Homo sapiens: one gene and its partners. The protein of the gene in region 1 purifies or fractionates together with the protein of each later gene. This does not show direct contact. Each region holds a gene or a part of one and is shown on either strand. Other genes may lie near its edges.

Region 1 (7,046 bases):
TCATAGTGTCTGCATCATTGATTTTCTTCCCTGTCTCCCATGAGCCTGTGAAGTACTGTGAGTGGGGACCCTATGGTGTTAATTTCTTGTATCTCTAGGTGATGTATGATCGATATTCAATAAATACCCATTAGTTAAAGAATAGCAACATTGCAGCTTTCTTAATCCTTAATGAAAGGTTCTTTATTACACCCCAGTAAGCCCTTGATGAATAATAATCAATTAAAATTACTAAGCAGAGACTGTGTTCCAGGCACTGCCCTGGGCACTCTATGTGTGTTTACTCATTGAATCCTCTCAGAACTTTCACAAGTCCATTGACAGAAGGTGAAACGGAGGCACCAGGGCACTTAAGTGACCAAAGACCTAGCTGTTAAATGTTAGGATTCAGACCCAGGCAGTTTGGCTTCAGAAGTCACATTCAGTACAATACATTTTATCTCCTATTTCCGACGTGATCTGCTATTATGGGTAGAAAACAAGTAAAATAGGAAGGCATCTCAAAACCTTAACGTACACTAACTCATACCTATCTGAACAAGAGAGACTAGGAGAACTGGGGGAAGGGAATGGGAGCAGGGAGGAAGAGATGTTGATTCAAATGAAGGAGTTTATTAGTTTATTTGTAGCATATTTTAAAGTAAGTAAAGGTTTTATAAATGGATTTAGAGTACTGTTTTAACAGTATTTTAATAATAAAACAATTTAGACTGAAATTTCGATTGAAAAAAGATGGTGAATATCTAGAATAGGCTTTTATGCTGTTAATTGATTTTTAAACTACTTTTTAGATATTTGCAGAGATTTAACAAAATATTTTTATTCTTCTCTTTGGGCTTCCAAAACACCACAGCCATCTGTGTTACTGTCACAGCTTTCAGAGGATTCTCACATGTGTTATCTCATTTTATACAATGCCCAGACTTCTTGAGAAGGTGATAAACCCCCCAGACTGGAGAACACCACGCGTCCTCTACACAGGCCACGTCCAGGGCTGCCTAACAACTCCAGCAGGTCTTAACCATAGCAGAGAGAAAAGTATCCCTGTAAACGGCTTTATTAGGTGCGAAGCTCTTTTAAATGTAAGCTTCTTGAGGATGATGACTTGATCTCATCCAACATTTTATCCTATAGAATGCTACAGAACCAACCTACAATAGATATCTAGTAAATATCTATAGAATAAATAAATGAATTAAAGTCATATAGAAACCTGAGTTAATATTTATTCCATTAACTGACTGGTCATGGTACTAATTAGCTCTAGGAAGCCAGATGAAAGTAATTTATGCAAGGGATCATTACCATTGTCACTAACGCGATACATAAACATGTGAGTGAACATTTTGTGGAGTAGCATATTCTTTGTGGTTTTATGTCCAAAAAGTGCAGTGAACCCGCAGAGAGAAAACATGCTAAAATATAAGAAGTGTGCAGTCCTACCAGTAAGCACAGTTAGATGTGTGATCATCCATAGACTCAGGGCCATTTATTTATTTATTTATTTATCTATCGAGACAGAGTCTCGCATGGTCGCCCAGGCTAGAGTGCAGTGGCGCAATCTCGGCTCACTGCAACCTCCGCCTCCCAGGTTCAAGGGATTCTCCTGCCTCACCCTCTTGAGTAGCTGGGATTATAGGTGAGTGCCACCGTGCCTGGCTAACTTTTATATTTTTAGTAGAGATGGGGTTTCACCATGTTGGCCAGGCTGGTCTCGAACTCCTGATCTCAGGTGATCCGCCTGCCTCGGCCTCCCAAAGTGCTGGGATTACAGGAGTGAGCCACCACACCCAGCCTGATTCAGGGTCTTTATGTAAAATATCCATAACATATCTGTTGGATTCACCCTCTGGTACGTCAGTGGCCAGAGAGATGGGAGAAGAATGATGGGAGACAGTTTTTTAGCACTTATAATGAGAGGCAATGTTGTAAGGACTTGGCAGTAGTAATACTCCCCATTTTACAGGTAAAGCAGCTGAAGCCAGATATTAGGTAACTTGTGTGTGGGGGGGCCACACAGCTTGTAAATTTCATTTGATCCTGATTTCAGAGCCCTTGCTCTTATTACACTATATTGTACTCAGAGTGACACCAAAAAAACAAAATACCACGCCCCCCTCCCCCAACACACACACAAACACACATATATAAAACCCTCACTGCCCTTTAAAGGAAGTCTCTTCACAGCTTCTATTTTGCCAAGTTTCTGTTACCACCATTCCCAACCTGGACATAAATGTTGCCAAAGCACTGCATAGAATTCATTGTGATTTTTTCCCCTCAGGCACATAGAAAAGATACGTTTAGTCTAAGTAAACACAAGTATAAACCACACAACAGACTTTTTTTTCACTTATCTAATTAGTAGTATTTAGCATTTAAAAAGCAAAGATTGGTACTCTTTGCTGGCGGGAGGGTAAATTGGTAAAATGTTTTTGTAGACCAAAAAGTACCGTTTTATATCTAAAGCTTTAGAAAATATACCCTTTGCCCTAGGAATTCTACCCCTGAGATTCTATCCTGAGAAATAATCTTATATTTCTAATAATTCCTATAGCATAGGAATATTCTATATTAAAATAACTTTGTTCCTTTTCCTTCATACTAAGTTATCCTGAAATATTGGCATTATTTGCATAGTTTTGCTTGATACTGTCTTTTGTCATTGTGAGTTTATACAGTAGTACATGAAGTGAGCCCTATTTTTTGACAAAGATATTTCTGGTGGACCCATCGCTTTCAGTCAACTTTATAAGAACTAACTAGACCTACCAGTCAGCAGAGAGAGTAAACTTACATTATTAATATAATTTTTGTTAGAAGTGATGGTAGCTTGTTCTTAAATAGATTGTTTTCCTTTTTACCTTTTACCTTAAAACTTAGGCTTTTAAAGTTTTTCTTTAAAAAGTTTGTTGAAAAAGCAAAAGATCTTGTACTTACATATCAGTGACTCGTTCGGGTCTCTGTGTAGTAGCTGTGAGTAGTTGTCCAAACTGAAGTAAGTTTTAACTGTGGCATGTTGTTTTAAGAGAGGCTGTGCAGACCTCCTTTTATGGTGGTGACTTTTTTTTTCTCTGTCACCCTGTGACTGAGCATGTAATGAGCAGTTAGCCTCGTGTACGTGTGTGCACTTTGTGTTTTTTTTTGTTTTAAATGGGAAGTGAAATTTTTTATAGTGATTAAAAAAAACTATCCAAAAGCCCCTTGGAATTTATGAATTGTTGATATCTGTGGAACTTTATAAATTTTTCTGTAAAGGTTTAAGTATCAAAAAATTCTTTGAAAGAGACTGAAGCAATAAACCTTAACCAAAAAAAAGACCAAGTTACTGATGATTTTATATTGATTTTGCATGTAAAAGTATGGGTTTTTAAATGTTTTAAGGAAAATAGTGTCAACTTTGACAGTGCTTTTTACCTGGAAACTTGGTATCAGGGAGTAGTTTACACATTCCACCTTATCCACAGCTTATGAGAAAGAAACAGGTTTCTGTGGCGTGGGGGTGAGTGACAGTCCAGGATGTGGAGTGGACTGGATTAGTCGCCGTTTTCAGTCGAGAGGCTGCCTGAGTCAGAGGCTGTGTGAGTACTTGAATAACAGGGAAACAGTTGAAGGGAGGCCCATTATAGATAAAATCCAGCCTCTTCAGCACAGGGTGAAAGAGACTCATGCCATTCACCTCATAGTTGTAGTTGACTCAGTTTAAACCAACTAACGTGTCTGTCAGAATGCAGTTTATTTGTAGGCTAAATTACCAGATATGTAGCACTCAGATCAGGAGAGGTGATGTTTACACTTAGTCAGGACTGATCTGGCCATTCCCAGCCACTTCTGGGTGCTGCTTTTTACGAAGACATAGATAACACCTGTGGCAGTGAGGGGCCTGGATAGCAGGTCTTAGGAGAACTGATTAAATAAGCTGGGGATGTGTATGCTTTGTAGGCATAGGGTCATTATCCTTATGCTTGTGGAAACTCTCATAGAAAAGTGTTTACATTGCTTGTGTCAGTCTTCCTAACTCCAGAGACTAGCGGGAGGGTCAGTAAGAAGTTACTGGACATAGCTTTTGGATCAAAAGATGAGAGTCATTCCCAAAAGTTGTGATTATTTTGAAAAATGGAATATGCTGTTTCTTATTTAGATGCTTGAGTAAACTTGATGATTTTGAGGGATGATGTAAACAGAATTGAATCATTTGGTAGGAATTTGTAACTCTGTGATCTCAGAAGCCTTTCTGCTCCAGGATTCTGTAAAAATAGTCGAGTAGCTTTTGCCTCCCACAGATGTCATTAGGTTCTTCTAACGTCTAAAGTGCTGTGAGTATGGAGGAACATTGTCAGACACAAGAAAGAGCATCAAGCAAGTCAGCTGAATTCTTTGGGCCGCCACCTCACTGTGTATAAAATAAAGGTATTGAACTAAATGATCTCCAAGGTAATTCCTAGTACAAAAATTCTATGAGGGGGTAATACAGAGATTTTATGACTTGGTGGATAAACATGACATCATATTCTAGAACTAGTTCATTTAAAACTTAGGCTGCAGAGTACTTGAAGAAGACACTGTTGATAAATTTTTCAGTTTGTTGAAAGACCATTCTGGTGGGGTTTTGCCTGTTAATTTTGAAATAGTTATATTAAGTAAAACATTTTTATATAGTGAAGGACTCAGCTAGTTCAAGTAATTCCTCTGACAAACTGGATCTGTCCTCCCAACCTTCTTTTTTTTTTTTGAGACAGAGTCTCGCTCTCACCAGGCTGGAGTGCAGGGGTGTGCTGTCGGCTCACTGCAACCTCCACCTCCCGGCTTCAAGCAATTCTCCTGCCTCAGCCTCCCGAGTAGCTGGGACTACAGGCATATGCCACCATGCCCAGCTAATTTTTGTATTTTTAGTAGAGACAAGGTTTCACCATGTTGGCCAGGATGGTCTCAATCTCTTGACCTCATGATCTGCCTGCATTGGCCTCCCAAAGTGCTGGGATTACAGGTGTGAGCCACCGTGCCCAGCCCCTTTTTTTTGATATCAGAGTAGTCAGGCAGATGAAGAAGAGGTGATGGGGTCATTATCCTGTAAGAGGCCGCTGAAGCTGTATATTAGATCATTTCATGAGCTCACAAACCTTGTTTTTATTGCTGTTGAAAGTTACCAGGGTTTCTTGAGTTGTGATTGTACTGTAAAAGTAGAGTTGGCCTTTACAGTTTTTTTGTTTGTTTGTTTGGAGACAGGGTCTCACTCTGTTGCCCAGGCTGGAGTGCAGTGGCACGATCTTGGCTCACTGCAACCTCTGCCTCCTGGGCTCAAGTGATCCTCCCACCTCAGCTTCCTAAGTAGCTGGGGCTACAGGCACATGCCACCACGCCCAGCTAATTTTTGTATTTTTTTGTGTGTGTGTGTGGAGACAAGGTCTCATTATGTTGCCCAGGCTGGTCTCAAACTCCTGACCTCAAGCCATCTGCCCACCTTGGCTTCCCAAAGTGCTGGGATTACAGGTATGAGCCACCACATCCAGTGACCTTTTCTATAGAAGAAGTGAAATGGACATTTGCAACCTTAACAAGGTGTCTCTGTTATTTTATGTTTTCTATCGAGTGCGATCATGAATATATAGCAGTAGATGCTCAGTAAATATTAGTGATTTTAAAGGATGAATTAGCAATGGCTCACGCCTGTAATCTCAGCAATTCAGAAGGCTGAGGCAGGAGGATTGCCTGATGCCAGGAGTCTGAGATCACTGTGGGGAACACAGCGAGACCCTGTTTCTAAAAAAAGTTTAAAAATTAGCCAGGTGTGGTGGCACACACCAGTAGTCCCTGTTACTCTGGAGGCTGAGGCGAGAAGATTGCTTGAGCCTAGGAATTAGAGGCTACAGTGAGCCGTGATTATGCCACTGCACTCTACTCCAGCCTGGGTGACTGACAGATACCGGTGTCTCAAGAAAAAAAGAAAGGATGGATGAAATGTTTATAACCTGCTTTCTCTTTTCTGTGCTACCAGCCTCATCTGCTTAAGCCAGAAAGGGCTTCCAGAAGGTAGTTCTTCACAGTATGAAAAAGGTCAAACTGAATTACTGTTGACAGTATAGAGAACAGATGTTGTCATAAAATAAGGAAAAGAAAAAGACTGGTCAGTGACTAATAACATTATGGTATTTTGTGAAGTCTGTGTGTGTAGAAATAGCAACGGAAAATTTCTGCAGAACAGCCCATATAATTTTGGTCTGAAATGTGTATGTGTGGCCTAGTATTTAGTCATCATTTAAAATTATACAGTGATTAATATTTTTAAAGGAGTTTTTAAACTTCTATTGGTATGTGAAATGTAAACTGTGGTCATTAAAATTTCTACCAGTATTTTTTTTAGTTTACGTTGAAATGTAACCTCAAAAAAGAACTCTGCTTTAGGTTATTTAGTTATAACATCACTATTTGTACTTTATTACTAAATGTAAACAGAAGAACTTCTATGAATTAAGCGCCTCCAAGGGCATGTTCTGTGGTAAGAGACCTCTGGTGCGATTGGCTCCCCAAATAGGGTTCTATAATCACCAAGAGAGCAGGCCATATTTTGAGCTACATATGAAACCATGTGTTTTAATCCCATTAAAAATGATAAAAAGGAAGGGGGCTTTTTAAAACAAAAGGCAAGTTCTGCTGTATGGTTTTACTGTTTTAAAGGAAAATTCATTTCTTCTGCAAATATTTATTGAAACCTTACTCTATGCCAGGCACAATTCTAGACAGTGGGAATAAAACAAAACAGACCAAAATCCCCATCTATGTGAAGCTTCCATTCTACTTTTAAGATAGATAGGCAGTGATGAGAAGGCTGTAAGTGCTGTGGGGGAGGACAGTCAGGAAGAGAGTAGAGAATGCAGAGGGGGAAGGCTGTGAGGGCGGGAGGTGCGGTTTGAAATGGGGCAGTCAGGGAGGACCTCTCTGAGAAGGTGCTGTCCTGCGGAGCACAGGATCAGAATGGGGATGGAGATTCAGGGCCTGGGACGTCTTTGTCATGACTGTAGGTGGGGAGGCATTGGAAGATTTATGCC
Region 2 (7,025 bases), on another chromosome or scaffold:
TCTGGCTCTCCTCTCCCTCACCCCCTCTTCTGCAGCCACACTTGCTGTTCTTGGGCATGCCATGCATGCATGGATGCTCCCACTTTAGGGGACTTGCACTGGCTCTTCCTTTGCCTGGTATGCTGTCCTCCAATTGTTTGCATGGCAGGCTCCTCACCTCCTTCAAGTCTTTACTCACGTGTTACCTTCTTAACCTACCCGGATTGCCTTATTTAAAATTGCAACCCTCCCTTCCTGCAACTTTCCTGGCTCATACCTGGTGTTCGCAGTTTCCCTTAACACCTCACACCCCACATCCCCTGTAGTGCATATCACCTTCTAACATAACCATTTAATTCACTTACTTTGTTTATTGACACTCTTCTCCCGGTAGCTGGTAAGCAGGCCAGGGATCTTTATCTGTTCTGTTCACTGATACATCCCAAATGCTCACCACAGTAGGTGCTCAATAATTGTGGTAAATGGATGTGTGAATGAATTCACACGTGAGACAGTGGGAGTGAATGGGATTGCCTGTGGAAGGTGTTTTGGGATGAAAATAGAAAGTGGAGGACTGAATCCCTGGATCTGCCTTTAATCAGTAACAGAAGAAGAAGTAATAACCTAGAAGTTAGTACTCTAGGTATTAGGAGAGTGTATTAGTCTGTTTTCACTGCTAATAAAGACATACCCAAGACTGGGCAATTTACAAAATAAAGGGTTTAATTGGACTTACAGTTCCACGTGGCTGGGGAGGCCTCACAATCATGGGGGAAGGCAAAGAGGAGCAAGTCACATCTTACCTGGATGGCAGCCAGTAAAGAGAGGGCCTGTGCAGCAAAACTCCAGTTTTTAAAACCATCAGATCTCGTGAGACTCATTTACTGTCACAAGAACAGTGCAGGAAAGACCTGCCCCCATAATTCAATCACCTCCCACTGGGTTCCTCCCACGACACATGGGAGTTGTGGGAGTTACTATTCAAGATGGGATTGGGGTAGGGCACAGCCAAACCATATCAGATAGTATAACCAAAAGTCAGTTGGAGAAAATGATATCCAGGGAGAACTGCAGGGATGATATATGGCCTATTGGTTCTTTTTGATACTCTGATTTTAATCTTTGGCTTAAGCCAAACCATTAGAGAGCTGCATATCTAGGACATTGTTACAGCTCCTTATGGAACTGTTTTTATATTACTGAGCTTTGACTATTGGCCATTAGCCTACCATGAAGGACATTATTTAAAAAATCCCATGAGACTTCATTATATCATTGAATTTACTGCAGCTGTGTTGTTGAGGATAATGTTCTTTATGTTAGAAGGTGCCCTCTTTAAATGAGGACCAATGAGATTAAGTTCCCTTAAGTTTCATAACAGTAATAACTGTGCTTCTTTTGAATGACTTGTTTGATTTTATTTTATGGAGATTGTATTTTGTGTCAACTGTCCTCCCTCCCTCCTTCCTTCCCTCCCTCTCTTCCTTCCTTCCTTCTCCATTGGTGTTTAATATATGCACAGAGTTGTGCAACCATCACCACAATCAATTTTAGTACATTTTCATCTCCTCAAGAGGACACCTCATACCCTTTAGCTTTTACTCCCAAATCCCCTCATGCTCTCTAGCTCTAGGCATCCGCTAATTTATTTTCTATCTCTATAGACTTACCTATTCTGGATAGTTCATGTAAATTGAACTATATAGTATGGGGTCTCCTGTGTCTAGCTTTTTTTAACTTAGCGTAATATTTTCCAGGTTCATCCATGTCATAACACATATCAGTACTTCATTCCTTTTTGTGGCTGAATACTATTCCATTGTATGGATGACACCACATGTTTTTAATCTACTCATCATCAGTTGATGAAAATTTAGGTTCTTTCCACTTTATGGTTATTATGAAAAATGCTGCTCTGAATGATCATTTGCAAGTTTTTGTGTGAACGTGTTTTAATTTCACTTGGGTAAAGCTTAGTGGTAGAATTGCTGGGCCAAATGGTAACCCTGTGTTTAACATTTTGAGGAGCTGCCAGACCGTTTTCCAAAGTGGCTGCACCATTTTACACACCCTACAGTACCTTTGACAACACTTGTAATTATCTGACTTTTTGATTTAGGCTATCGTAGTAACTGTAAAAACTGGCATATACGGTGGCTTTGATTTTTATTTCCATGATGGCTAATGATGTTGAGCATCTTTTCATGTGCTTATTGGCTATTTGTATATCTTCTCTGGAGAAATGTCAGTACACATCCTTTGCTCTTTTATTTTTTGGCTATTATTGAGTTGTATTAGTTATTTATATATTCTAGATATAAGTCCCTTATCAGATATATGGAACTTACTTTTTTTTTCCATTTTGTGGCTTGTCTTTTCACTTTCTTGATAATGTCCTTAAGTACAAAAGATTTTAATTTTGATTTAGTGCTATTTATCTTTTTTGTTGTTGTTGTTGCTTTTGATTTTTGGTGTCATATCTAAGAAACTGTTGCCTAATCTAAGGTCACAAAGATTTACTCCTATGTTTTATTCTCTTCTAAAAATTAAATTTATTTAAAAATTGACAAAATTATGTATACATATTATGTACATCATATTTGGAAATATATATACATTGTGAAATGTCCAATCAAGCTGATTAACATATGCATTACCTCACATTGTTACCACTTTTGTGGTGAGAACACTTAAAATCCTCAGCATTTTCCAAGAATACACTGCATTGTTAACTATAGTCACCATGTTGTACACTACATTTCTTGAACCTATTCCTCCCATCTAACTGAAATTTAGTATCCCCTGACCAACATGTCCTCAAAGCACCTCCTACCACACCAGTCCCTGGTAACCACTATTCTACTCTCTACTTCTATGAGATCAACTTTTTTAGGTTCCACATATGAGTGGGATCACTCAGTATATGTCTTTCTATGCTTGGCTTATTTCACTTAATATAATGTTCTGGAGGTTCATCCATGCAAATGATAGGATTTCCTTCTTTTTTATGGCTGAATAGTATTCCATTTTGTATATATACCTCATTATTTTATCCATTTATTTGTTAATGGACACTTAGATTAAATCCATATCTTAGCTATTGTGAATAATGCTGCAATAAACGTGGTAGTGCAGATATTTCTTCAATATACTGATTTTATTTCCTATAGTTATATACCCAGTAATGAGATTGCTGGATCATATGGTAGTTTTATTTTTAATTTTTTGAGGAACTTCCATACGGTTTTCCATAATAACTGTATCTTATGTTTTTTTTCTTCAGAGTTTTATAGTTTTAGCTCTTACGTTTAGATCTGCGATCCATTTTGAGGCAATTTTTGTGTATGACACGAGGAAGAGGTCTAGCTTCATCCTTTTGTGTGTGGATATCCAGTTAGCACCATTTGTTGAAGAAACAGTTCTTTCCCCATTGAGTTATCTTAGCACCCTTGTCAAAACCAATTGACCATAGATGTATGGGTTTATTTCTAGGCTCTCCATTCTCTTCCATGATCCACATACCTGCCCACTGCTTGTTTTTTTTTGTTTGCTGGAAAGCGTAGAGCCCAATGTGAAATGTACTGGGAAGTGTCTAGGAACCTCAGGGACTGGATTGGTAGACTTGCAGCACCCCTGGATTTCCCTGTTTCCCTCCTCCCACATTTCTTTTTTGTTGTTTTAATGTGTGCTTTGCGATAAGCTGCCTCAAATTCTTTTCTTAATGAGTTGTGGGACATTCATAAATACTGTTTTTATACTTCAAATGTTTTATTAATCAGTTCTCACTGAAGGCTGGCTAATTTATACATTTCACTGCTGTCAGCTTAAAAATGTAAATTGTCTGTTAAGTGTCTTAAATATTTCTCCCTGTCAAATTATCATCAGCTGATGCAGTTGTCTTTTTATCTACTTTTAATTGGAATTCAGATAATTTCCAAGATTAGCACCTACAGCTTACCTCCTTGACTGCTTGACATTGTTTCTGTTATTAATAACTTATTTTCATCTTCCCCTTGCATCTTACATGTTTATATTTTATACACTGAAAAGTGTCTTGAATATAATTTGGTGCTATGTTCAGAGGACTGTAAATGTTTATACCTATTTTTTCAATAGTCTTAATTTTCAGGTACTTAGCCCTAAGGAATAACACTAAATATAGAAAAGCGCATATTCACCAAGATGTTTACCACATCTAATTTATAATTGTGAAAAATTGAAAATAACTGACATGTCTTAGAACTGGGAATAGATAATGCTAGCTATATTATAGTCACTGGATGGAGTATTATATTTCTGTTTTGAAATTATATGTATCTATTTTGAAAAAAATGCTAAGAGAGTAGATTTTAAGTGTTCTCACCACAGACATGATAACTATATGAGGTAATGCATATGTTAATTAGCTTGATTTAGCCATTCCACAATGTCTATACATTTCCAAATATCATGTTGTACATCAGTGGTCCCCAACCTTTTTGTTGCCAGGGACTAGTTCCGTACAAGACAGTTTTTCCATGGACTGGGGATTGGGGGTGGGGGTGATGGTTTGGGGATGATTCAAGTGCATTACATTTATTGTGCACTTTATTTCTATTATTATTACATGGTAATACTTAATGAAATAATTATACAACTCACCATAATGTAGAATTGGTGGGAGCTCTGAGCTTGTTTTTCCTGCAATTAGACAGTCCCATCTGGGGGTGATGGGGGACGGTGACAGATCCTTAGGCATTAGATTCACATAAGGAGCACTCAACCTAGATCCCTTGTGTGCGCAGCTCACAATAGGGTTTGCGCTCCTATGAGAATCTAATGCCAGTGCTGATCTGACAGGAGGCGGAGCTTGGGTGGTAATGTGAGTGATGGGGAGTAGCTGTAAATACAAAGAAGCTTTGCTTACTTGCCCACCACTCACCTCCTGCTGTGTGGCCTGGTTCCTAACAGGCCATGGACCAATATCTGTCCATGGCCCGGGAGTTGGGGGGGATCCCTGTTGTACATGATAAATATACGTAATTTTATTTGTCAATTTTTAAGCAAATTTAATTTAAAAAGTGAAAAAAAGGAGTAAATCTTTGTGGCTTTAGATTAGGCAATAATTTCTTAGATATGACACCAAAAGCAAAAGCAACAATAACAAAAAAAGATATACATTAACAATATTCAGCAACTTTAAAATTAATGTGATATAACTTAGGTGAAAGACGCACCATGTAGGCATATCAGAAAGACAGTAGGGAAACATACAAATGACATTTTTCCCCCAGATGGTAGGAAAGTGCATGATATCCTATTCCTGTTTAAATTTTATTACTATTTTGTATTTTTTAATGTAAAAGCTTGGGAGTATCAAAATTTGTAATTTTCATAGGAATATATATATTTTTCCTTTTCAGATGTGAATCTGGCTACACTGGACAGCACTGTGAAAAGACAGACTTTAGTATTCTCTATGTAGTGCCAAGTAGGCAAAAGCTCACTCATGTTCTTATTGCAGCAATTATTGGAGCTGTACAGATTGCCATCATAGTAGCAATTGTAATGTGCATAACAAGGTAGGTAATGATGTAAGAAATATCAACTTTAAATTAGAGGCAGGCAACTGTTTATTTATAGATGCTTTGAGGCCACCAGTCTATTAGGAAAAATCTTATGATCAGTTCCCTGAGGTTTTCAGTGGTCTCTCCCTATCCTTCTTCTTTAGGATACGGGCAGGGACTAATTCCCAGTCTTACAGGTATATCTGGGCGACAAGCAGAGAGGGAATGAGAATAGTCAATGAGATAAAGGAATTTAGGGATCTGAGAACTGTATACAGTCTTTGAACACTGTATTCTGGGAAAATAATGTTAGTAGCAATCTTTTTTTTTTTTTTTTAAGAGACAGGGCCTCACTCTGTTGCCCAGGCTGGAGTGCAGTAGCAATTAGAGCTCATTGCAGCCTCAAATTCCTGGGCTCAAGTGGTCCTCCAGAGTAGCTGAGACTATAGGCGTGAACCACCCTGACTGGCTCAGAATTTCTAGAATGATCTGCACATGCATAGGAGATCCATGCAGAAGATTTTTAAGCCCTGCACAACTGCAAGGGGTTCTGTGCCCTAAGAACGTACTTTACTCACAGTTAGTATAGTAAGAAAGGAAGAAATCAGAGGCTGAAGATAGTTTTATTGTGATATCATGGTGTTAACATTACTTCATTTTCAGGATTGCAGCGATAAGTAATAAGCTTTAAAATTCTGTATTATAAATAAAATTATTCGTCATAAATTAAATGACTTATTTGGAGTGCAGTGGCATAAAATGGGTCTTTTCTAAACTGAGTAGAAATACATAAGTCAGACTGAACTGGGCCTGAGAAAAGTCAGAGTAAATCCAGCAAGTTCGTGTTGTCTTTGTGCTTCCCAGTCTAATGCTTTTCTTCCTGCTTACCTCTTTCTTTAAGCTTCAGTTCAGAAGTCTCATAAGCATCATTTCTCCACTTCCCTGCATTATTCTGGGCAGAGGGTTGAAGCATATCAAATACAGATATTGGCAGGCCATAATGGATTTGTGGCCCTTCTATCCAAGGTCTGGATAGAAGCCAGACCTTCAGTAGTCTCAGCCATCTGGAGCTGAGATGATAAATCTAGAAATGATAAAAAAGAAAAGGTTCTCCAAGTAACAGATATTTTTCATAACACCTAGGCATGAAAGTCAGTGCGCTTTATTTCACAGAACAGATGATCTGCCCTTAGGCAAGACTACTGAATATAAAATTGGACGGTAGATCAAAGTAGGGACATAATCATGTAACAAATAATGATAACAGAAAGAGAAGATAGGGAAAACACATTTAACAGCATGACTGGCTGTAGCCATTTAATATAGACTCAGAGGTTAAGTAATTTGTCTGTGGTCATCCGACTAGTAAGTGGAATTGTCTGGATTTGGATTCAGTTTGATTCCCATTCATTCTTTACACTGAAAGGTTCCATGTTGAGTCATCTTGGGAAACATGTTTGCCCAGTATGACCATTGCATGGGAGCAGGGTTCAAACTTGA
Region 3 (7,457 bases), on another chromosome or scaffold:
TCCTCTGTTTTTTTTTTAATGGTCTTTACATCAAGGTGCTGCAGCCAGTGGGGCATGAGGCAGAGTTTTCACCTGGGTCAGAAGGTTTTGGAACTCTTCCACTGCCTGTGAATGTGCCTTGGGGTTGAGCACCAGGTGTTGGAAGAGATTGACCGGCTCAGCATTCCTAAATGTCTTAGGGATTGGGATGGTCAGGGGCAGAAAATTGTTACCAATGAGGAAATGATGGAGGGACCTTTGCTGGAGGCCACGGCCCAAGAACCAGAGAATGTCCTGGAGCCGCTGAGAGAGCATGTTGTGGGCCCAGTCCGTGAGGGGCAGCCGTAGCAAGAGGTGCATGAGAGCTGTTTTAAAATGGTAAGAAGTGAGGATGGGGCGGGATGCTCCATGGGGTAAGCTCTGATGCTGCCGGAGACTTAAAATGATCTGGAGGCACTTGAGGTGACAGGTGTTCTCGGGGGCAAAGCGCCCCACCAGCTTCAGGAACAGGTGCTCACAGGCCACAAAGGACTCAGGCCAGTCCACACTGGTGAGCTGCTCCTGGTCAGGAGCCTGACTCACCAGGTAGACCAAGGTGTCTTCTCGTTGCACCCCCAGGACCAAGTGGATTGAGAGAAAGCGGCCTGAGCGATAGTCCAGCCGGAGCTTGCAGGAGGTGGTAGACGGTGGGAGACTGAGTTTAAAGTCATACTTGTGGGCCACAAGGGCCCAGGCATTGCCCATCATGTTCCGGAACCACTGCACAGTCTTGCACACGTCTAGGTGGAAGCCGGTGCAGAGAGCTGCCTTGATGGAGCTACTACACTTCCCCAAGACTGCCGAGGGGTCCCTGTGGTGGTGCACCAGGCACAGCACGTCCCCTAGGAGTTTCTCACGCTTGCACACACATTCTGACTCCACCAGCACACAGCCACAGCGGCGGCCCAGGGCTGGGTCCCTCATCTCCAGGACAAACATGGTGCCCTGTGGGGGGACAATGGGCACCAGGATATCAAATTTCTGGGTCTCATGGAGGGTTCCCCATTTCTCAAAGGCAGCCCCGATGCCCAGGCAGTCTTCCAATTGTGGGTGAGCCTCTTGGCGGCTGAGCACCCGACAGGCCTCAATGAGATCATCCACAAAACTCTCCACAAACTCACAGGTGCAGGGCAGGTCACGGATGGCATTTTGGACATAGTGTTTGTAAAAGGAGTCCAGGGCCTCCTGGGAGGGGAAGTCAGTAAGCCAGTTGTAAGAGGTGACAGGGACAACACGGACTTCCTCCTCCTCCTCCTCACTGCTGGAATCAAAGGCCGGTTCATGCTGCATGTTCTGTCGCAGGAGCTCAAAGACGAGAAAAAGGCAAAAGAGGCCAGTGTTCCACAGGTTTCCCAGCATCCAGCCCAGAGGCCCTTCCTGGCCATCGGCCTGGAACGGCCACCCCATGTCTTTCTTCCCCAGCACTAACTGGTCACTGGATGTGTCTCCTGTCCAGAAGTTCTCTGCCTTCTGCCTCTGCTCAGCGGCTCGCTTTCTCTCTTCAAACTCCATCTCTAGCAGGCGCATCTCCTCACTCATTCGCTTCTCCAGCTGCCGACTCCTGGCTAATGTGTCCAGGTCCATCCGATCACTGACCATCAGAGGGTGGTGAACAACATACATCACTGCCAAGAACAGCAGGCTTATCACAGCCATGGAGGCCTCTGCATCTGGAGAAGTAGGAGAGTAGGAGTCAGTGGTCATCTTCCAGACTTATCTGCTCTCTAGCTCACATTCCCCAGAGCCCTGGTACCCCAAATTCTGAAAATCAGCTACTCAGGAGGAACAGAAAGCCCACAGAGCTTGGCTTGGACACAGCAAGGGTGGTCGGCCTGGGAGGAGGTTCGAGAGAAAAGAGGGCGAAAGGATGTGCCACTCAGTCTCTCTCCTGCTTTCCTTCCACATGGTGTGGGTGGTATTTAGGCTTCCAGAAAGTGTACATGGGACTGTTTTCATTCCTGTGTAGGATGGGGAGGGGGACCCTTGTGGTAGGGTGGCCTCACCCGACTCCTCAGTCAACCATGGGCACCAGATATGACCTGCTGATCCCAGAGGCTCCCTTTTATAGCCAGAAAGCCCTGAACCTGCCTGGGTGACACCTTTCCTCTGCCCCGGCAGCCAGTTGTAGCATTCCACTTCCTCTGTGACTTCACAGTCTTCATTCTGCTCACCCAGTATGAAGTGAGCCTCATCACTCAGCCTCTCCCTCTCTGCCCAGGGAGCGCAAGAGAGGCACAGTGCCGCCAGCTGCTTGCTACGGTGCCCTCTCTGCTCCTAAGGGGCTAGTGGATACCCCGTGTGTGGGCAGGCTAGCTTCACTTCTTAGTTCAGAAAACTGTCTGCAGAACCAGGTGCCCAAGGCCTACCTGACAGCCGGCAGTGGTCAGTTCCACTGCCTCCCCACCCACCCGTGAAGCCCGAGCTTCTGCCACTCACCCTAATTCACAAGCTACCGCGCTTACCAACATTCATGAAGGACTATGCCGTGTGGACGCTGAAGCCAGCTGGGCCTATCCTCCCTTTGGAACTTGGCCTTGCTTCGTCTCCCCGCCCTCTCTAGGAGCCCTGTTAAAATGTACAAGGTACCTGGGGGCTTTGGCTCAAATCGGAACCCGACCCTCCCCCCATTCATAACTTCCCCAAATTCCACGCCCAGAGATTTGTACTCTCACCCGCCTATCCGTAGGAGGCCAAGGGCCCATCCTACCTCGGGATGTCTCCCGGGACCCAGGGCCAGGTTACTCACCGTCAGTGTTAGTAGGAACACGATCTTAAAGAGACAGCGCGGCCTGACCGCCACTGCTTTTTTCCCGGCAGGGTGGGGGCGTCCGGTTCATCGCTGGGGCCGCCCGCGGGAGTGGCCCTGCTCCCCTTTCCTGGGTTATAGACCATGCTTGTCCGAGCGTCTGAACGTCTGGCTGAGCGCGGTGGGCCCCTACGACCCCCAGCACGCGGCTCCGAGGGCGCCCGCGCGCCGCAGCCGCTCCCGCCGTCCGGGCTCCTCCCCGCCCACCCAGTACAAGCTCCTCCCCGCCCAAACCCCCGTGGCCCAGCGTGCAGGGGCAGCGGCCTCCCCACACCGGGTCTCTGTCCGCACCGAGGCCCCCGTGGGTTTGCTGGGAGAGTGGAGGGGCCGTGGCCACACACTCTCCGCTGCTCGGCCTCCCTGGGGTGGCAAATGGGGCACCGCCGTGCCTGCTGTCAGCTGCACTCAGCTCAGTTCAGTGGAGAACAGACTTACTAGGATTCGGGTGTAAGGATGATGGTGGCAAAACTAGGAATTGACCGAGAAAAGCCATTCTCACTTCGGGCTGGCCCTGAGCAAAATGGCACACGAAATAAGATGTGGTTTCAGCACCCTAAATGTGCTTCCCTCCCAGCCCACGCCCAGACTCAGGCATCTTTCCCCAACCCCTTTCTCATATCAAAGTGACTCTCATGAAAGAACAGACAGCACCCAAAGACCTTACTTGGGGCCTTGCTTGCTACTCACTGGCCACGTGGGAGTAAGAATCCTACCTACAGGGCAGCTCTGCTGATACATGGGTGTATAAAGGAGAACTTTATACGGTGTGGAGGCTGGACAAGCTTTATCACACCTTAAGAAACACAACAGAATGGGTTTCCTGAAAGGGATCTTCAGATATCAGAAAGAGCCCTTAGTCTTCCTGTCTTGTGTCAGCTATCCAAGAAGAAAAGGAAGTGATGACCCCTTGATACTAACTCACTAAAATCCCTCTGCTGAAAGACAAGTTTCAGGGTTTTTATTTGTTTGTTTGTTTTTGAGAAAGAGTTTCGCTCTGTCACCCAGGCTGGAGTGTAGTGGCACCATCTTGGCTCACTGCAGCCTACCCGCCCCAGGTTCCAGTGATTCTCCTGCCTCAGCCTACTGAGTAGCTGGGACCACAGGTGTATGCCACCATGTCCAGCTAATTTTTGTATTTTTAGTAAAGACGGGGTTTCACCATGTTGGCCATGCTGGTCTCGAACTCCTGACCTCAGGTGATCTGCCCGCCTCGGCCTCCCAAAATGCTGGGATTATATGTGTAAGCCATCACACATGGCTGGGTTTCAGGTCTTCTTATCCAGTGGCAATGTGTAGGGAGCTCCCAAACAACTTGTACAATACTTCCAAGAATACTGACTTATTTAATTGTGGAGCAGGAAAAACTGTCTGCTAGCTGACAATGACTGAAGTTCCAAAGTTACTTTTTATAAATGTGAATTATGAAAAATAGATCACAGGTTATTGAGCATTCATGCATTTGGAGCAGTAATAATGAAAGTCTCTTATCTTTTCACTTATGACATGATGTCAGGATGCAAAATATATGCTTCAGAGTGTGCAAAAACGATAATGTTTAAGACCATGTGTTTTAAAGTTGTATTATTTTAATTAACAAATAATAATTGTACATATTCATAGGGTGCACAGTCATGTTTCATACATACAATGTATAATTTCAGATTAGGGTAATTAGCATATCCATCATCTCAAACATTTATCATTTCTTTGTGTTGGGAAGGTTCAATCCTCCCTCTAGCTATTTGAAACTATATATTATTACTATTATTATTTTGTGTGTGTGTGTGACGGAGTCTTGCTCTGTCACCCAGGCTGGAGTGCAGTGGCACCATCTCAGCTCACTGCAACCTCCACCTCCTGGGTCAAGCAGTTTTCCTGCCTCAGCCTCCCAAATAGCTGGGATTACAGGCACACACCACCAAGCCCGGCAATTTTTTTGTATTTTAGTAGAGTGGGGGTTTCACCATGTTCTCGAGCTCCTGAGCTCAAGCAATCTGCCCACCTTGGCCTCCCAAAGTGCTGGGATTACAGGCATGAGCCACCATGCCTGGTCTATTATTGTTAACTGTAGTCAACCTACAGTGGTGTGAAACCCTAGTACTTAGTCCTCCCATCTGGCTATAATCTTGAATCCTTTAACAAATCCCTCCCTATCACCACCTTCCCCTCCCCTTCCCAGCCTCTAGCATCCTCTGTTCTACCTTTTACTTCTATTACATCAACTTTTTCTAGGTTCCACATGTGACTGAGAACATGTGGTGTTTATCTTTCTGTGCCTGGCTTATTTCACTTAATATCCTCCAATTCCATCCAAGTTGCTGCAAATGACAGGATTTCATTTTTTTTTATGGCCAAATAGCATTCCATTGTGTACATATACCACGTTTTCCTTATTCATTCATCTATTGTTGGACACATAGGTCAATTCCATATTGGCTATTCTGAATAGTGCAGCTATAAACATGAGGGTGCAGATTTCTCTTTGATATAATGATTTCCTTTCCTTTGGATAGATTTTAAGTAATGGGATTGCTAGATCATGTGAGTAGTTCTACTTGTAGTTTTCTGAGGAACCTCCATGTTATTCTCCATAGCAGCTGTGCTAGTTTACCCAACAGCATATCAGAGTTCCCTTTTCTCCCCATTTTCACCAGCATCTGTAAAACCATATGCTTAAAAATGTGTGTTCATGGTTAAGGATTTGTTTTAAAAGTGGTTGCTGGACAGGCGCGATGGCTCACGCCTGTAATCCCAGCACTCTGGGAGGCCGAGGCAGGCAGATCACCTGAGGTCAGGAGTTCGAGACCAGCCTGGCCAGCATGGTGAAACCCCGTCTCTACTAAAAATACAAAAAAAAAAAAAAAAAAATTAGCTGGGTGTGGCGGTGCATGCCTGTGATCCCAGCTACCAGCCTGGCCAGCACGGTGAAACCCCGTCTCTACTAAAAATACAAAAAAAAAAAAAAAAAATTAGCTGGGCGTGGTGGTGCATGCCGGTGATCCCAGCTACTCAGGAGGCTGAGGCAGGAGAATCGCTTGAATCCGGGAGGTGGAGGTTGCAGTGAGCTGAGATCGCACCACTGCACTCCAGCCTGGGCAACAGAATAAAACTCCTTCTCAAAAAAAGAAAAAAAAAAAAAAAAGAACATGCTATGGCTTACTCCCATTATGTGTGTGTGTCTGTGCATCACATGCCTCGGAAAAGTTTCAAAGGGTGGATCCCTAAATGTTTACAGTGATCTTCTGAGGGTGGAGGGATTGATTGCAGGTGTCTAGCAATAAGGAGGTATTCTTTTCACAAAAATAAACATGCAGTGTCCAGCGTATGAATGGGCTGTGTGCCCAAAGCCCTCCCTCGTGTGCCTCGTGAGCACAAAACACGTTTTCTACAGAAACAGGTGCGCCTAGGACCGCTAGAGACGCTTTGCGCCGGGGCAGTGTCTTCACGGTTCGGAGAGCTGGGAGTGGAGGTGGGGGGAGGTTCCTCATCCTCGCCAGCTTTCTGGGCCCCAGGAGCCGCCTCCCTTCGCCCCCGACCCCGCCTCCGTCCCCCAAGCCGCGGACGCGCCTTTTCCGCCGCCTCCAAGAGCAGCCGCGGGGCCGCCCCCAGGACGCGTTGTTCGCTGCCGGAGTTTGGGGTGGCAAGGACCGGGCGCACGGCTGAGATGCGCTGCCCTCCAGAATGCGAGCCTGTGCACGCGCCTGCGGAGGGGCCACACTCCCTGCAGCGTCCGCGATGCGCTGTTCCCGCTGGCGCTCGGCGGGCGCTCCCCTGGGCACATCGAGGCTCTAGTGACCGCATTATGAATTAGTCCTTTCCTTTTCTCCTCATGTGATTGCAGCGAGCGCTCGTCTTGTTTGTAAATCGTGCTGGCAAGCCCCGTTTTAACCAACTACGAATTTCATTTCGGAATGAAAAAGGAGACGCACTTTCGGACAGGGCAGCGGTTGCCGCCGGTCCTTCCTCTGAGCTACCGGTCCCTAGAAGGAAGACCTGCCTTCGACCGATCTGGAAATGAGTCCCAGCTGCAAGCCCAGGGCGGCGGAAGCCCCACGGGCCGAGCCGAAGAAAGACGAGGCGGGGGACGGGGAGCGTAGTGCCGCGTGCCGGGACCCACAACCCCTTTCCCCTGGGCGCTCTTCCCCGAGCGGACAGGAAAAAGCTCTCCTTTGCCGCTGCCCATCCCCCAGGGCCCAAGCGATGCTTCCTAACCGCGTGGACGCAGCTTGATGGGGGAGAAAGAGCTCTGGGAGCAGGGCTTAGAGCCTCGTCTCGCCTCCTGCCAACTCGGTCCGGCAAGGTTCCGAACCTCCCTGAGCCTCAGCTTCCTAATCTGGCAAACATGACGACAAAAGTCCTTCTCTTTTAAGGTTGGTGCAAAAATTAAATGGCCCTTTACTGTATATTTAGAGCACCTGGCTCACGGATTAGTCACCTCGCTCCTGGGCTCAACAGTGTTCACTGGGTCCTTACAGCATCACACTGGGATCCTTAAGGGCAAAGACCAAAATTAGACCTAGCTTAATTCCTGGTGTGCAAGTGCTAAGTGTTATGAAATGAGTGAGTGACAGGATGATCCAGCTATGAGAAATAGGAGAGAGTTTGCGGTGGGATAGAGACTGTACCTTCTTTT

Evidence for each region. Proteins that work in one complex are often made in the same cells at the same time.
Region 2: the proteins of GPR183 (region 1) and TMEFF1 purify together in Homo sapiens (affinity purification with mass spectrometry, with the first as the bait; 3 studies listed by BioGRID). This does not show direct contact.
Region 3: the proteins of GPR183 (region 1) and ITPRIPL1 purify together in Homo sapiens (affinity purification with mass spectrometry; 3 studies listed by BioGRID and IntAct, with this or other methods). This does not show direct contact.

The regions. Positions count from the first base shown.
Region 1 is NC_000013.11:99,304,400-99,311,445, forward strand, and holds the start of GPR183 (G-protein coupled receptor 183), read right to left. Parts: upstream 3,001-7,046; 5' UTR 2,941-3,000; intron 1-2,940. UniProt on the Homo sapiens protein: G-protein coupled receptor expressed in lymphocytes that acts as a chemotactic receptor for B-cells, T-cells, splenic dendritic cells, monocytes/macrophages and astrocytes.
Region 2 is NC_000009.12:100,567,137-100,574,161, forward strand, and holds part of TMEFF1 (tomoregulin-1 precursor), read left to right. Parts: intron 1-5,381; coding exon 5,382-5,540; intron 5,541-7,025. Other genes in the region: MSANTD3-TMEFF1 fusion protein, read left to right, coding at 5,382-5,540.
Region 3 is NC_000002.12:96,320,873-96,328,329, reverse strand, and holds the start of ITPRIPL1 (inositol 1,4,5-trisphosphate receptor-interacting protein-like 1), read right to left. Parts: upstream 3,014-7,457; 5' UTR 2,765-3,013; exon of another isoform or gene 2,584-2,764; 5' UTR 2,491-2,583; coding exon 2,481-2,490; intron 2,134-2,480; exon of another isoform or gene 1,723-2,133; coding exon of another isoform or gene 1,689-1,722; coding exon 31-1,688; 3' UTR 1-30. UniProt on the Homo sapiens protein: Functions as a ligand of CD3E, inhibiting TCR-CD3 complex signaling to regulate T cell activation.